Regions from separate parts of the Homo sapiens genome. Here region 1 is linked to region 2. A link means that fine-mapping ties the variant in region 2 to the expression of a gene that starts in the linked region. Tissue or cell type: subcutaneous fat. Region 2 holds a variant in brackets; the other region holds the start of a gene. All regions are shown on one strand. Distances are between the middles of the regions.

The links. PIP is the estimated chance that this variant, and not a neighbour inherited with it, causes the effect.
Region 1: it holds the start of TMSB15B-AS1, and the variant in region 2 is fine-mapped to the expression of TMSB15B-AS1 in subcutaneous fat (GTEx, PIP above 0.99). The same link has a PIP of 0.9 or more in visceral fat.

Annotation. Positions count from the first base shown.
Region 1 is chrX:103,916,015-103,924,122 of GRCh38, forward strand. It overlaps TMSB15B-AS1 (TMSB15B antisense RNA 1), which reads right to left and starts at 3,534. Exons shown (of 5, transcript NR_146557.1): 1 at 3,411-3,534; 2 at 2,818-3,066; 3 at 2,395-2,446; 4 at 2,073-2,211. It also overlaps a transcript of TMSB15B not described here. RefSeq lists an enhancer at 3,460-3,549.
Region 2 is chrX:104,169,878-104,177,985 of GRCh38, forward strand. FAM199X (family with sequence similarity 199, X-linked) reads left to right here. Exons shown (of 6, transcript NM_207318.4): 2 at 5,746-5,965. Among named protein-coding and RNA genes, the nearest start is that of FAM199X, 7.5 kb to the left of the region's middle. The variant T/A (reference allele first, on the strand shown) is at 3,695.

The DNA.
Region 1 (8,108 bases), 250 kb before region 2:
CTCCAGCCTGGGTGACAGAGCGAGACTCCGTCTCAAAAAAAAAAAAAGCATACAAATTTATTTAACATATATACACTGCAGCCTTCGGAGCAAAGGCAGAAAGGTACAGGGTAAATTGTCTATTTATATGCTCAGGTTCAACAAAGTATGGACAGCCCTGTAGAAATATGATGGGACAAAAAGGCTAAGACCTAATGCTAATCCAGCAGGGCTTGTTTGTCTAGACTGTGCTTGGCTTCTGTGAACACAGATTTCTTCCTCCTGGGTATGGGGCAGGACCCTCTCTGTAATGGGGTCTTGTGACCTGCAGTCAAACAAGGTCAGATCATTTCTTTATGACCAGTTTTACACAAAAAAGGTGGAGGAAAAATTAGAAAAGTATTTTTAGGCTTTGTGACTATCTTTAGAAAAAAAGGCTTCTGGTTTCTAGGACCCACCTTGGGGAAGAGGGATTCTGGTCTGTACAGTTAGCTCCCTGGGAAGAATGGGGCTGACAGACAGGAGGACCCAGGACCTCAGAGAACATCTTTTACATCCGAGACTACTTCTGGGGCCTTTATTTTGGGGTATCATGCTCTGAGCCCCAACAATAGAAGTCAGCTGCATGTGCAAGTTCATCACTTACAATTTTTACTTTCCTCAAAAACACTAAGAAAACAATACAGACCAAACCTTTGCCACTGTAAAACTAGGATTGCCTTTCCTCAAGCTTCCAGTAACATCTTCCTAGTTTCGGTCTCATAACTCACCACAAGCACCTTTAACACTCATAGCTCTAGCAACATATCGGTGATCATGATATATGTATTCTCTAAGTCAGAGATCCTTTGTCTGCAGCAAATAATTCTTTTCTTAACCCTCACTTGAATTGCATTTGGTGTCCATATTTCCCCCAGCCATCTCCTAAAGGCCCTCTAGGCTTCTTGTGCCATGCATGTCAAAATGCTTCCAGTCTCTATCCATTATCTAGTTCCAAAGCTGCTTCCACTCTTTCAGGTGTTAGCTATCAGATCTGTCTGGCAACAGAATCCCTATTGGTTTGCTCTGTTAGCCTGACAATGTACCACAGACCTGGGTGGCCTAAACAGCAGACATTAATTGTTCACAGTTCTGGAGGTTGGAAGTCCAAATCAAAGCGTCAGCTGGGTTGTTTCCTTCTGAGTAATAAGAGGGAAGGATCTCTTCCAGGGATTTTTCCTCAGCTTGTAGATGGCCCACTTCTCTGTATGCTACTTCACATTTTCTTCCCTGTACACATGTCTCTTTGTCTGAATTTCCCCTTTTGATAGGCACAATGCACGCTAGCCATTTCGAGTTAGAGCCCACCCTAATGAATGTAATTTAACTTCAGTATCCCACTAAAAAACCCATCTTCAAGTAGGAGAGAGACGAGGGGTCAGGAGTCCAATAGATGTATTTGGTGTTTTTTTTTGGGGGGGGGGACACAACTGAACCCATAGGACATAGGAATCCTGAGTTGTAGGTGGGAATACCTCCTGCCTCTTCCATTATGTTAAGAGAACACTGGTAACTGATGAAGGGAAAGAAGGTGACTCCTACCCATCTTTTTTCAAGACTACTTGAATGTTGAGTAATTTTATACACACACACACGCACACACACACACATTTATATATATATATATATATATATATATATATATATATAAAATCTGGTTTATTCCATTAAATTCTCTAGGTATAATGAGAGTGAAAAAGCTAAGGAACATTGTTAGAGATATAATGTTGATCTGACTAATCCTTATAAAGGGAAACCTAGGAATATAAGAGACAGAAATGACCATGTAGTAAAGGGATTAAATGGAAAATTATTAAATGAAAATTATTACTGTCCTTGAAGCAAGTTGCGCTATAGATATATTAGAGTTGACAATGTTTAGTTCTCGGAAAAAGAATGCATGAAAAATCTTCAGGACGCCACAGGCCACCTGCCCCTCCCCTTTACTACCTCCCCCCGCAAGAGGTAATAAGAACCCATTAATCTCATGACCTCAGGTCTCAATCACACACCCCTTTGTCAAAGTTTACCCCCGTTATTTCTCAGATTCTTACATGAGCTCGGAAACTAGCGTTCCCCTGTATTTTACTTGCAGCCTCTCAACAGGTGCCTGCCTTGAGAAAATTAGCCTCTGGGGTAGAGTCGACTTTTGTCCACTGGGGGTCGCAGATCCCAGTCCTCAGGGCCTCAAGACTGTGCCGCGAAGGAAGGAAAGGAAGGGTTGGGAGCAGCCTCTTCTGAAAACCTGATACCTCCCCTCCACCGCCTCCTCTGTCGCCAGGCGGAAAATTCCCTCTCCCATCTTCTGAACACAAGCCAAAGTGCCTCCTGCACTCCCGCCCCCCGTACATTTCCTGCGGGAAACCGTCGGCCTACCAGCTCTGCAATCAGCCGCACAGAATTCAAATTCGGATTCGGCTTTGATGACCTGCCGGAGAGAAAGGGACTAGAAGTTGGATGACCTCCCACCCCCATATTCCTTCCCAGGAAGAGATGAGGAGATGCAAAAGGGGTTCAAGACAGCTTGCGATCGTCTTCTCCCGCCCCTTGCCACCTCCCCGAACACCCGCCCCCGACGCCCGACAACACCCCCGCCCACTTCAATCCAGGCAAATCATAAATCCTACCCAGTCGGCAGCATCCAGATGAGCCACAACTCCTTTCTCAGCGCAACCAGGCCATGGGAGTGCTCCATCCCCTGCCTCGCAGTTACTGATTCTCCAAGCCGGGCGCCGCCCAGTCCTGGTGGGGCTTCCCCCACCCCTCTCCGCGCCGGGAAATCGCGCGCTCTTTCTTTACCTGCGCTCCACTGGTGGGCAGCGTATGCTCCCGCGTCGACAGCTCTGTTTCGCCTTCCGGTCCCCATAGCTCTGCAGGGGAACAGGATCGCTGGCGCCTCCTGGGCCGCTAAGCGACCCCGGGGCTGCCCGGCTTAGCGAGTGCTTCGCAGAGAGGTAGCCGAGTCGAGGCAGCGCGGTTCCCAAGGAAGTCACGGCTGCGGCCACCCTCCAGTTCGGACCTCCGGGCAGCCGCGGTTGCTTTCAGTCTCTGCCCATTGAGACAAAAGAGCGTGACAAGCCGCGCGACGCGGCCAATCAGCGGGGCGAGGAGGCGGCCTACCCAAGCAGCCTCTGGCCCTGAAGCTACTGCTAGCAAGACTCGGGAGCTGGCTGGCGGGGGCTGAGGCCGACAGGCACGGGAGCCGGCGCGGCGTCAAGTGGAGCTCGGACGCACGGACCAGGCCCATTTCCCTTTCATCTGTGAGTTTGCTGCTACCCCGTCGCTTCCCTTCTCCCCATCCCCTTCCGCCTCGGCTCTGCTCCGGGCTTTGAGACCGGATGCCTGAAACACGAGGTGGGACAGAAACCAAGTGAACAATGAGAGTTCCTTACCTTTGTATAGGGGGAAGGGGGGAAACAGCATTTACTGAGTGCTTTCTGTGTGCGGATGCGCCTGTCTCCTTTCTTCTCAGCAGCCCTGTGAAGGAGGTAGCAGTGTGCCCACTTAACAGGAAAGGACTGAAACACCCAGGCGGTACAGTTAGGAAGTGCAGAGCTAAGAGCTCACTCCCAAGTCAACATATCTGACTTCAAAGGCTACCCCTTGCCAACACTCCTCTATTCTGTTAGATTAAGGGATAGCGGAGAAAAACCAAAGCCAGGATGGGAGGACCAACTTGGGACTGCATAGAATTAGTGAGCAAGAACTGTTATCTCCATTTCACAGATGAAGAAACTGAGCCAAAGACAGAGAGGTTAAGCGTCTTGCACTGTATCCCGCAGCAAAGAAGTTACAGCATCCAACTTAGCACCTGTATGTTGCTCTCTAGATGCTAATTGTTTGCCCTGCAGCATTGTCTGAAGAGCACTTTTGCACAGGTAGTCTCAAACCATCTCAACAGCAGTCTCAATGTGATGATAGTGCTGAGGGAGGGGGTGAGGAGGTAGTAGGGAGAGGGCTGAGGGAAGATGAAGGCAACCTTTATGGTGCCCATTGTACAGAAGAGGAAACTCTTCTTGGCACTCTTCTTTCCTTCGTTTTTTTAAAAATACTTTTTTTTATACTACAAAAAGCTGCCCTTTTTATAAAAGCAACATAATTTCGACAGCCCTTTGTGACGCCAAGGGAGGCAAGGCTCAGAGAGGTAAAATGATTTGTCTGAAATTACAAGGTGAAGCCAAAATTTGGACCGAATCTCTGAATCCAGAACTCATACTATTAACTAAAGTGAGTAAAAAGTGGGCTGCCTCAGAATCATTTTGGAGAGCTTGTTATAAATGCAGATTCCTGGGCCTTACCCCTGGGGGATTTTGATGTACTAGGACTACAGGTAAAGAGTGTGATTTGTAGTTTTAAACAGCCCCATAGTTGATTCTGAGGTGTAGAGAGATTCGTGAACCACTGTTCTAAACACCACCACGTGATGCTGAAGGTTATAAGTAAATGGGCCTGTCATCAGTGTATTTGTCCATGGCATATCTGTTATGAAATGTAACTCCAGAGCACAGGTTCCTACCCGCGGTCCTTCCTGGAACTGTATGCAAAGAATCTGGACTCCGTACATTCTTCTGAGTCCACAGCTTTGCAGATTTTCAAATGGGTCTGTCATAATGTCTTCCTTCTTCAAGCCATGCTTGATGAAGAAGTGTGAGAAATCAAACCCCATTTAACCTAACCCCCAAACCACAGCTCTCTGTTGCTGATATGGCTCTTTCATTTCCTGGCTCAAGGACAGGTTGCTAGGTTGCCCTTCTGTGAGCTCTTCAGGGGACTTCTCCTTTGCTGGATTTGGCATCACTGGCCCCAGAGAAGGAGCAACTCCATGGAAACAGCATGCAGGGCTGTCCAAAGTGAATGGCCATGAAGGCAGTGGCTGGAAAACCTGCTCCATTTTTCCCTGACTTAGAGAGCAGGTATTACTTCCTTTATGTATAGTGTGGCTAGGAGGCTCCTGTGGGGCCTGTTCTTGACTCCTGATGCTTGGAAGCAAGTGAACAGTCTGAAGCCCTTCCACTGCCGTTGGCTTCATCTTCAGCCTGCCAAGGCACTTCACTCACTCATTTCCACCCTCTTATTTACAACCCCAAGATGTAGAGTTCCTTGGAGTAAACAATACAGATTTGGAGATGAAGCACTTTCCATCTCAGGATTGTGGCCTGTGGATGGAACAGTGGGGTAGTGGTGGTGGAAGGTGGAAAGTGTGGATGTATGGAGAAGGCAGGTTGCTCACCTCGCACACTTAGGGGTGATGGTGGCAGTAGCTCTTAGGTTTCCTTCAGACTTTTGCTTCTGCTCCCCTGTCCCGTGACATCTGACTCTTGCCTCCCAGAAGACTCTTGTTCAGTGTTTAAATTGGCTTTATCACCAAATTAGGTATTTGCAGCTGGACTTGGTAGGGATGGAATCACATAAGACCAAGAATAGGTGTCAGAGCTCGGACAAAAATAATGACAGGAAATGGATTGTGTAAAGGTGCCAGAGTTGGACTACTGGAACAAAGCGAGAGACATTTTGTGCAGGGATGGGGGGAGTATTTGCAACCTGGCTCCAATTGGATACAGGACATCCTATCTCTGGCCTCATGTGTGTGAGTCTGTTCCAACTGATGGCTCTAATGAGACCACATTTTGTAATTTTAACACATAAACCTTAGAAGCTTGAAGGTTTAGAGATAAAGCTTTCAGCTGAAACAATAATAGCTGCCTTTGGCTGCCTTCCTCCTTTGTACCAGGAACTTTCTATCTGTTATCTCATTTAAGCTTCCCAGCAACACTGTTGAGACAGCCATTGTATCCCATTTTGCAGAGAGGGAAACTGAATTTCAGGGATGTTAAGTAACTTGTGTAAGGCTTCACAACTTTTAAGTGCAGGCACTGGGATTGCAGGCCAGGGATGTCAAACTCCAAAGCCCATGAAAACTCTTCTTTGCTGCCTTCCAAACAAGCAGTCTAAAAGGCATTCTGCAGATAACCCAGTTCATTAGACCGATTGCAGCTTTTAGAACAATTTAGTTGTTATCTTGCCTTTATTCCTATTATCTCTCTCTCTCTCTCTTTTTTTTTTTTTTGAGACGGAGTCTCCCACTGTCACCCAGGCTGGGGTGCAGTGGTGCGATCTCAGCTCACTGCAAGCTCTGCCCTATTATCTCATTTTTATTTAATTTATTTATTTATTTATTTTTTATTAGTGCTATACTTTAAGTTCTAGGGTACATATGCACAACGTGCAGGTTTGTTACATATGTATACATGTACCATGTTGGTGTGCTGCACCCATTAACTCGTCATTTACATTAGGTATATCTCCTAATGCTAACCCTCCCCCCTCCCCCACCCCACGACAGGCCCCAGTGTGTGATGTTCCCCATCCTGTGTCCAAGTGTTCTCATTGTTCAATTCCCACCTATGAGTGAGAACATGCAGTGTTTTGTTTTCTGTCCTTGCGACAGTTTGCTCAGAATGATGGTTTCCAGCTTCATCCATGTCCCTACAAAGGACATGAACTCGTCCTTTTTTATGGCTTCATACTATTCCATGGTGTATATGTGCCACATTTTCTTAATCCAGTCTATTATTGACGGACATTTGGGTTGGTTCCAAGTCTTTGCTATCGTGAATAGTGCTGCAATAAACATGCATGTGCATGTGTCTTTATAGCAGCATGATTTATAATCCTTTGGGTATATACCCAGTAATGGGATGGCTGGGTCAAATGGTATTTCTAGTTCTAGATCCCTGAGGAATCGCCACACTGTCTTCCACAATGGTTGAACTAGTTCACAGTCCCACCAACAGTGTAAAAGTGTTCCTGTTTCTCCACATCCTCTCCAGCACCTGTTGTTTCCTGACTTGTTAATGATCACCATTCTAACTGGTGTGAGATGCTATCTCATTGTGGTTTTGATTTGCATTTTTCTGATGGCCAGTGATGATGAGCATTTTTTCATGTGTCTGTTGGCTGCATAAATGTCTTCTTTTGAGAAGTGTCCATATCCTTCACCCACTTTTTGATGGGGTTGTTTGATTTTTTCTTGTACATTTGTTTAGGTTCTTTGTAGATTCTGGATATTAGCCCTTTGTCAGATGGGTAGATTGCAAAAATTTTCTCCCATTCTGTAGGTTGCCTATTCACTCTGATGGTAGTTTCTTTTGCTGTGCAGAAGCTCTTTAGTTTAATTAGATCCCATTTGTCAATGGATCATTTGTTGCCATTGCCTTTGGTGTTTTAGACATGAAGTCCTTGCCCATGCCTATGTCCTGAATGGCATTGCCTAGGTTTTCTTCTAGGGTTTTTATGGTTTTAGGTCTAAAATTTAAGTCTTTAATCCATCTTGAATTAATTTTTGTATAAGGTGTAAGGAAGGGATCCAGTTTCAGCTTTCCTCATATGGCTAGCCAGTTTTCCGAGCACCATTTATTAAATAGGGAATCCTTTCCCCATTTCTTGTTTTTGTCAGGTTTGTCAAAGATCAGATGTTTGTAGATGTGTGGTATTATTTGTGAGGGCTGTGTTCTGTTCCATTGGTCTATATCTCTGTTTTGGTACCAGTACCATGCTGTTTTGGTTACTGTAGCCTTGTAGTATAGTTTGAAGTCAGGTAGCGTGATGCCTCCAGCTTTGTTCTTTTGGCTTAGGATTGTCTTGGCAATGCGGGCTCTTTTTTGGTTCCATATGAATTTTAAAGTAGTTTTTTCCAATTCTGTGAAGAAGGTCATTGGTAGCTTGATGGGGATGGCATTGAATCTATAAATTACCTTGGGCAGTATGGCCATTTTCAAGATATTGATTCTTCCTATCCATGAGCATGGAAGGTTCTTCCATTTCTTTGTATCCTCTTTTATTTCGTTGAGCAGTGCTTTGTAATTCTCCTTGAAGAGGTCCTTCACATCCCTTGTATGTTGGATTCCTAGTATTATCTGATTTTTAAAAATGAAATTACTAATATAACTTATGGAACAACTTATATACCAGTTGCTGTGCTAAGCACTTTCCATACTTTGTCTCATGCATCCTTCATGACAATCATTTTACATATATAGATACTGAGGATCAGAGAGATGCAGAAACTTGGCCAAGGTTATAAAGCTAGG
Region 2 (8,108 bases):
ATTAAAGTCATTTGTGATGTAGGTTGGTATGTCACTGGTCTAGGTTCAGTAGAAAATACATTACATGGACACAGCCAGTTTCCTAAGCATTCATACCTTAAGACCTACATGGATTGGTCTAGAATTTTAGGAAAATAGAATAAATTTCAATAAGCCAAAAAAGTGAATGAATTTTTTAAAAATGTGAAATGTCAGTGTGGAACATATGTAGTGTTTAAGACATTTTCTTTGGTTTTGGGGGCAGTGATTTTCTGATGTAAATGGAGGTTTTCTCTTAGCACTTCCAAACTATTGCATAAATCTTTTACTCAGTTATGTGATTTTAGAGCTCCGTTTTCAATCACCATTAACCAGAAAAACCTAAAGACTATTGTGTGCCTTTGGTAACACCCATAGTTTTCCTATCTAGATACAGAATTAGAGGTGCAGAAGAGCTGTGGGTTGCAGGTGGGAGAACCATGTTGGAGGAATTTGGTTTGGGGACTTGCTGAGACAAGTTGAAAATGGGGGGTTAGGATTTGGAGAAATATCCAAGCTAGAAATACAGATTTGGGAGTAATCAGTAGAAGTCCGTGACGTGATAGAAGTGGAACTACAGGTTACAAAGGTTGAGAGAGTGGAAGGTTTTCAATAAATTTAGCAGGGAAAGAAAGGAGAAGGGGAGATGTTGTGAGAATTTGAAAGGGAAATAAAGGTTTCTTTTTTTCTTTTTTTAACTTCATTTAGTTTTTCTTTTCCAAGAATAGAGATGTTAGCTCCTTAGAAGCAGGCCACAGGAAAGGGAGAAATTGAAAATATAAAAGAAGGTGGGATGAGAGATAGACATGATGAACTCAGAAGTCCAAATGGGATCATTAGCCTTAGAAATGACATAGAGTGTTTTTTACTTCCAAGGCAATAAAGAGGGCAGGAAAGATGGGTAATGAACCCAACACAATTGGGGTAGCTAGGAGGAAAGTAGGGAACTTAAGTGGGTAGAAGAAGGGGTTGTATATTCTCTAACTTGGAACCTTGGTGGCCTGTTGGACTCCAGAATAGCAGCAGAAGTCAGGTTGGCTATATGGGGATTCTGGCAGAGAGTCAGTGGTGAATACAAGTACTGATGGGGCACTGTACCCTAAGAATGAATATATAGCATAGACTTCAAATGACCTTCATCAGCTTGGCAGAACTTCATTCAACAGTGCTCATTGGCTGGATTCTTATCTTCAGAAGTGGCAGTCAGGCCCACCTGAGAGAAAAGGGGGTGCAGAGGAATGTGTACATGGTACACATGCTTTTCTTAATTTTAACGTTTAAATGGCTGTTTACCAAAATACCATTGAAAGTCCTTAGTCTGTATATTCTTGCTGAAACACCTTGCAGAGAAATGTTCTTGGCTTTATTTTTTTTTTTAATTAAAATTTGGGCAGCAAGCCTAGTTATTGAGTTAAACACCGTGTTTCACTGGAATTCTTTTCAACGTCTTTCAAGATTTTGGAGAAAGTCTCTTTTGAGAGTAATATTATGGTGATAGCTAGAGTCGAAGTGTTAGGTAACTTTCTCTTAGTGGAATATAATGTAAGGGCTTGTAAATTTAAATAGTTTAGTGCTGAGCACACAATGGACATTCATTACAAGTTTGAAACTGACAGAACAGTCTGAAAGAATCACACTTAAATTTTTATTTAAAAACTTATTATAGAAAACTGAGGGCATATAAAAAACTATAGACCACTCATGATCCTTTTCCCCAAAGGTAACAACTATCAACATTTTGATGTTTCTTTTAATGTGTCTATGTACAGATATAATTTTTAAACATCAGGATCAGTTTGTGACCTGCATATTTGCTCCTATATTGTTGGGTGTTTTCCTTTTGAATAATCTGAAAATATGATTTTTAGTGATTATAAAAATACCATTCAGATATATCATTTAATCCTCATATTTTAGGGGCATTTATTTTCCCTTTTGGACTATTACAAATAGTATTGTTTGGACATATTTGTACACACATCTTTTTTCCAAATTTCTGTTTGGGGAAGGGAACACAATCCTAGAAGGGGAATTACTGATTCCAAATGAATGAACCTTTTTAAACGTCTAGATGTACATAGTACTGCCAAATTGCTTTTAAGAAAGATTATGTCAACTTAGACTGTCACTGGCAATGGATGAAAGTACTTCCTACTTTGTTTTTATCTATATTGCCTTAAAATTATGATTTTAAAAATTTGCAAATTAGAAGATATAAAAATTTTGCCAGGTGCATTGGTTCACACCTGTAATCCCAGCGCTTTGGAAGACCAAGGTGGGAGGATTGCTTGAGCCCAGGCATTTGAAACCAGCCCGGACAACGTGATGAAACCCTTTCTCTTCCAAAAAAAAAAAAAAAAAAGAAATGTGAAAATTAGCCAGGCGTGGTGGTATGTGCCTGTAGTCCCAGCTGCTGGGAAGGCTGAGGTGAGAGGATGAATCAAGCCCAGGAGGTCAAGCCTGCAGTGAGCCATGGTCGCACCACTGCACTCCAGCCTTGGTTGACAGAGCAAGACCCTGACTCAAAAAAAAAAAAGGAAGATATAAAAAATGTTACAATCTTTACTAGTAAAAAATACTGTTATTCTATTTTATGAATGATTTGTTCAATTATGAGCCCGGTTTACTTGCTGCTGATAATTAAAAACAAAAGACAAAGACTTCTAAGAACATTCAGAACCTTGTGATGATTACAAATCTGAGAAACACATTGACTTTGCCCAAAGGTAAGAGCACAAAATGAAGCAAATTCCTGACTCCTTTGGCAGTGATCTAATGGTTAGATTACTAAATATGGCATCTTTTTTTTTTTTTTAAGGAATGTCACTATTACTCATGGAGAGAAACACATTTCTACAGAATTTTTACAAACTAAAAAGAAATTCTAATTAAAAACAATTATCTAACAGTTTTTCCTAGCACCGAACATAGTACTTGGTACATAGAAGATACTGACTAAATGTTTGTTGAATGAGTGAATGAATAAAGGGAAAAAAATCACATGTAATTTGAAGACACAAGAGAAAAATAGTTTGCTCAGGACATAATGTAGATAAGGCTTACTGTGTCCAGAATGTATTTTTGTTTTGTTTTGAGATAAGGCCTTGCTGTGTTGCTCAGATTAGAGTACAGTGGCAGGATCAGCTTGCTATAACCACAGACTCCTGGGCTCCAGGGATCCTCCTGCTTCAGCCTCCCGAGAGTAGCTGGGAATACAGACATGCACCACCTTGCTCAGCACATTTTTTAACTTTTTGTAGAGATACTGTCTTGCTTTGTTACCCAGACTGGTCTCAAACCAGGGTATGATTCCTCTTCATAACTTTTATTGCAAGACCTGGGATAATTTGGTTAATTAAAAATTTTTCTAAAATGAGGATACTGTTCACCTAGCGAGCATGTGATGAAAGTAATATTACAAGATATTCTAGGATTCTTAGATGAATTTTATTTTTTTTACTATCTATAAAAATTTATTGACATCTACTTTCTATTTACTGAATTATAATAGTGTGTGTGTGTTTCAGTGTTTTAAAATGGTCTACCTTCAAAAGAAAAGGTACCATAAAGTTTTTCAGGTTGTCCAAATTTTGTATGTAAATCAAGAACTTCTAAAAGATTAGCCATACAAAATGGAGGAAGTTAAAAAAAATGAAGTGCGTAATTTAAGAAACAG[T/A]AGATTTAATGAAGGATGAGACACGACCTAATAATAGGTAAATAACAGACTTTTCATAAGGAAGTCATTACTTCAGGAGCTTGTTAGTACTGGAAATACTAAATAATTATCTTAAGGATTAATTCTCTATGCTACTGGCAAAGCAATGAAGATTATCTTATTAATAGTATAAAACTAGTGGAAATTTACAAAGGAAAACAGATTGATAGATTTCAAGACCAAAAAAAGATCCAACCAAAAAACCCTGCAATAAATACTGTAGACAAAATGTTAATATCCTTAATACATAAAGAACTCTTACAAAATTAGTAATGAAAATATTAGCACATAGGAAAACACCATAGCGAAATAGCTAATGAATATTTAAAAATTTGATCTTGCTGGTAATTAAATAAATAAAACTTGATATAAAAATGTTTCTGTGCTGGTGCAGTGGCTCATGCCTGTAATTCCAGTGGTTTGGGAGGCTGGGGCGGACAGATGGCTTGAGCTCAGGAGTTTGAGACGAGCCTGGGCAACATGGCAAAACCCCATCTCTACAAAAAATACAATAATTAAGTGGGCATGTTGCACCTGTGGTCCCAGCTACTTGGGAGGCTGACATGGGAGAATCGCTCGAGCCTGGGAGTTGGAGGCTGACATGGGAGAATCGCTTGAGCCTGGGAGTTTGAGGCTGCAGTGAGCTGTGTTTGTGCCACTGTACTCCAGCCTCAATGAGAGAAGTGAGTCCCTGTCTCAAAAAAGCAAGAAGTTTCTGTCCTATAAGATAGGTAAAAAAATTTTTAGCAATTTTAGTGCTGTTAAGATTGTGATGAAATGAGCACTTTTATATACTGCCCTGGGGAGTATAAATTGATGCTGCCTTTCAGAAAGGTGTTGACTAAATTGATCCTTAGAAATGTTCATATTCTTTGACTCAGTACTTACCTTTCAAGCAACTGTATCCTGAGATAATATATTTTGATAAATAATTATAAACAATGCTCATCTCAGTATTATTTCTAATATTAAAAAATTAGAAACAGCTTATGTATCATTGGGGAATAAAGTTAAATAAATTATGATACATTTAGCCAATGGAATATTATATAGGCATTAAAATGTTTTCAAGTAATATACTTAGGAAAATGTTTAGCATATTAATGTTAAGTGAAAAAAGCAATATACTAAAATATATATACACAGAATGGTTGCTGATTCTGTAAAAAATATGTATGCACATAAAAATAAACTACCAAAATATTATAGATTAGTTATTGCTGGATAATGGAATTATTGATCATTTTATTATTCATTCCTTTCTTTCCAACATCTTTGCAATGAGCCTGTACAGCATTAATATGAAAAAGTTACTTAAATATAACAAATACTTCTTGAACATCTACCTGTGTAGATGCTTGTTAGTGCTTTTCTCTGCCCTGCAATGGCCCCACTCTTCCTTTAACAATAATAATAGCTGTCATATATTGGGCACTTTTTATGTGTGCTACAAGTGCTGTGTATGCATTCTCATGTGATCATCACGATACCTCCATTGGGACACAGACTTGGAGAGAGTGTTATTTGCTTAAAATCAATTAGCTAGGAAGTGACAGAGCAAGAATTTGAACTGTCTGATTCCAGAGCTTACTCATAACCACTATGCTGTATGCTTTGTTTATGGATGAAGATTTTACTTTAGTCCTAATTTAAATACTACTTTCTTTTAAAATAGTGTACTACAAAAATTTTCAGACAGCTACAAAGGTAGAGAGAAAAGTGTAATGGACCCCATGTTCCTGTCACCCAGCTTCAACATTTATTCATATACGGCATCATGCTTCATCTGTACCTCTATCCACTCCCCAACCCCTGCCTTATTTTGAGGCAAATCCTAGACATGTATCATTCATAAATATTTTAGTATATTTCCTTAAAAGGTAGGGGCTCTTTTAAAAATACAAAAAACCTCACATTCCTTATAAATGTTATAAATATGTCCTGTTAATTATATCTTAAAATTGTATGGATTCTGTAGTTCTCTTGATTTCTTTCGTGTTGTGTTTTTGAAGGTGGAACCTAACTTCTTGTGGAACAAGTGTTGCCAGCTCAGAAGGCAGTGAGGAGCTGTTTTCATCTGTGTCTGTTGGAGATCAAGATGATTGCTATTCCCTGTTAGATGATCAGGACTTCACTTCTTTTGATTTATTTCCTGAGGGGAGTGTCTGCAGTGATGTCTCTTCTTCTATTAGCACTTACTGGGATTGGTCAGATAGCGAGTTTGAATGGCAGGTAAGTTTTTTTGTCCTTTTCTTGACATTGTTACTACCGAAGTAGAAGTATAAACTTTTCTTTTGATATTTTCATCTCTACTTCAAAGTAAATTTCTCTAATGTTTATCCAGTCCTGGAGATTCTCTGACATGTTTTAAGGTTAAGAATTGGATGGGATATCTTTATTTTTGCTAATGTACCTTTTTGATGCTATAGATATCCTTTTGTAGATTTTTATGTTATTTAATACTTGCGTAATATTACCATTATTATATATTATCGGTACCTTTCTGTGCATGAATCCAAGCAAAGTTACACTTCCTACCCTATAATAAATAGCTTTTGTGTCCTTATAGGACAAATATCAGTCACATTATGTACCTAATATCATAAACTGTTATTACCATAAATACATGATTTTTGGTTCTGTCATCAGAAATATATAATTTCTCATTTTGTATTCTGTTTGTATGTAGACATGTTTTTCGCCTGACACTTTTTTCTTGTGGCATATATACCATGTAAAATGGCTTTGTGGTAAATTGTTTGAAAATCCTGCCTTATAATAAGTGCAGTTTGTCAGAAAATTTAGATTGTGTTATTACAACATTCATATTCTGATTGTAAAAACAATAAAACATTTAAAGACGTTTTCCCTGCCTACAGCAAAGATTTTATTCGCTAGATAAACTCGAATGTCTGCTACATTTGAAAGCCATCTGAATACTTGAAGTTTTATTCCAAAAGAGGGATTGAATATTATAATTTCAAACAGCTTTCAAATAATACAGAATGGCATCAAATTTAAAAAAGTCTCCAAGTCCCACTCTACTATGGTTACCACTGTTAGGAGCTTATGCAGATATAAGTATGTTTGCATACTGTTAAAAACATATGGGATTATACTTCATCCACTGTTTGGCCCTATGCTTTTTTTCAGCTAACACATCTCATTCTTTTCCATAACTGGATCATAATTTACTTAATCCATTTCCTAATTATGGCTATTTCGGTTGGTTTCAGTTTTTTGTTGTTATAAACAATGCTACACTGAAAAGATGAGATTTTTTTTTAAGAAAAAAAGTAATTCACAACCCTTCCATTTTTGTTTTTCATATTATTTGGATTAAAACATTTTTAAACTTTTTAAAAATTTGAGATGAAATTCACCATTTTCATCATTTTGAAATGTATAATTCAGTAGTTATTAATATACTCACAGTTGTTCAGCCATCACCGCTAATTCCAGGGCATTTCTGTCAACCCCAAAAGAAATCCTATACCCATTAGCACATAGTCCCAATTCTCCCCTCCCCCTTATCACCTGGCAGCTACTAATCTAATTTCTCTATGGATTTGCTTTTGTGGATATTTCATATCAATGGATGAATATATGGCCTTTTGTGTCTGGCTTCTTTCACTTGGAATAATGTTTTCAAGGTTCATCCATGTTGTACCATATAACAGTACTTCATTCCTTTCTATGGCTAATATTCCATTGTGTAGATGTACAGTACCACATTTTGTTCATCCACTCATTACCTGATGAACTTTTGGGTTGTTTCTACTTTTTGGCTGTTATAAATAATACTGCTGTGAACATTCAGGTTCAAGTTTCTATGTGGATTTATATTTTTAATTCTCTTGAATATACCCCAAAGAGTGGAATTGCTGGATCATATGATCACTTGCTATTTAACTTTTTGAGGAACTGCCAACATGTTTTCCAGAGTGACTGCACCATTTTACTTTTCCACCAGCAGCGTATGAAAGTTCCCATTTCACCACATCCTTGTCCACACTTGGCGTTGTCTTTCTGTTTGTAGCCATCCTACTGGGTATAAATTGGTATTTCATTATGGTTTTGAGCATCTTTTCATGTGCTTATTGGCCATTTGTGTGTCCTCTTTGGGGAAATATCTATTCAGATACCTTGCTGCTTTTAAAATTGTGTTATTTTACTTTTTATGGTTGCGTTGTAAGAGTTCTTTCTATATTCTGGCTACTAGACCCTTATCAGATATATGATTTGCAAAAATGTTTTTATTCTGCAGGTTGTCTTTTTGCTTGTTAGCATTTGTTCACTTGATAGTGTCCTTTGACACCAAAGTTTTTAATTTTGATGAAGTCTAATTTATCTTTTTTTTGGCTGTACTTATGAT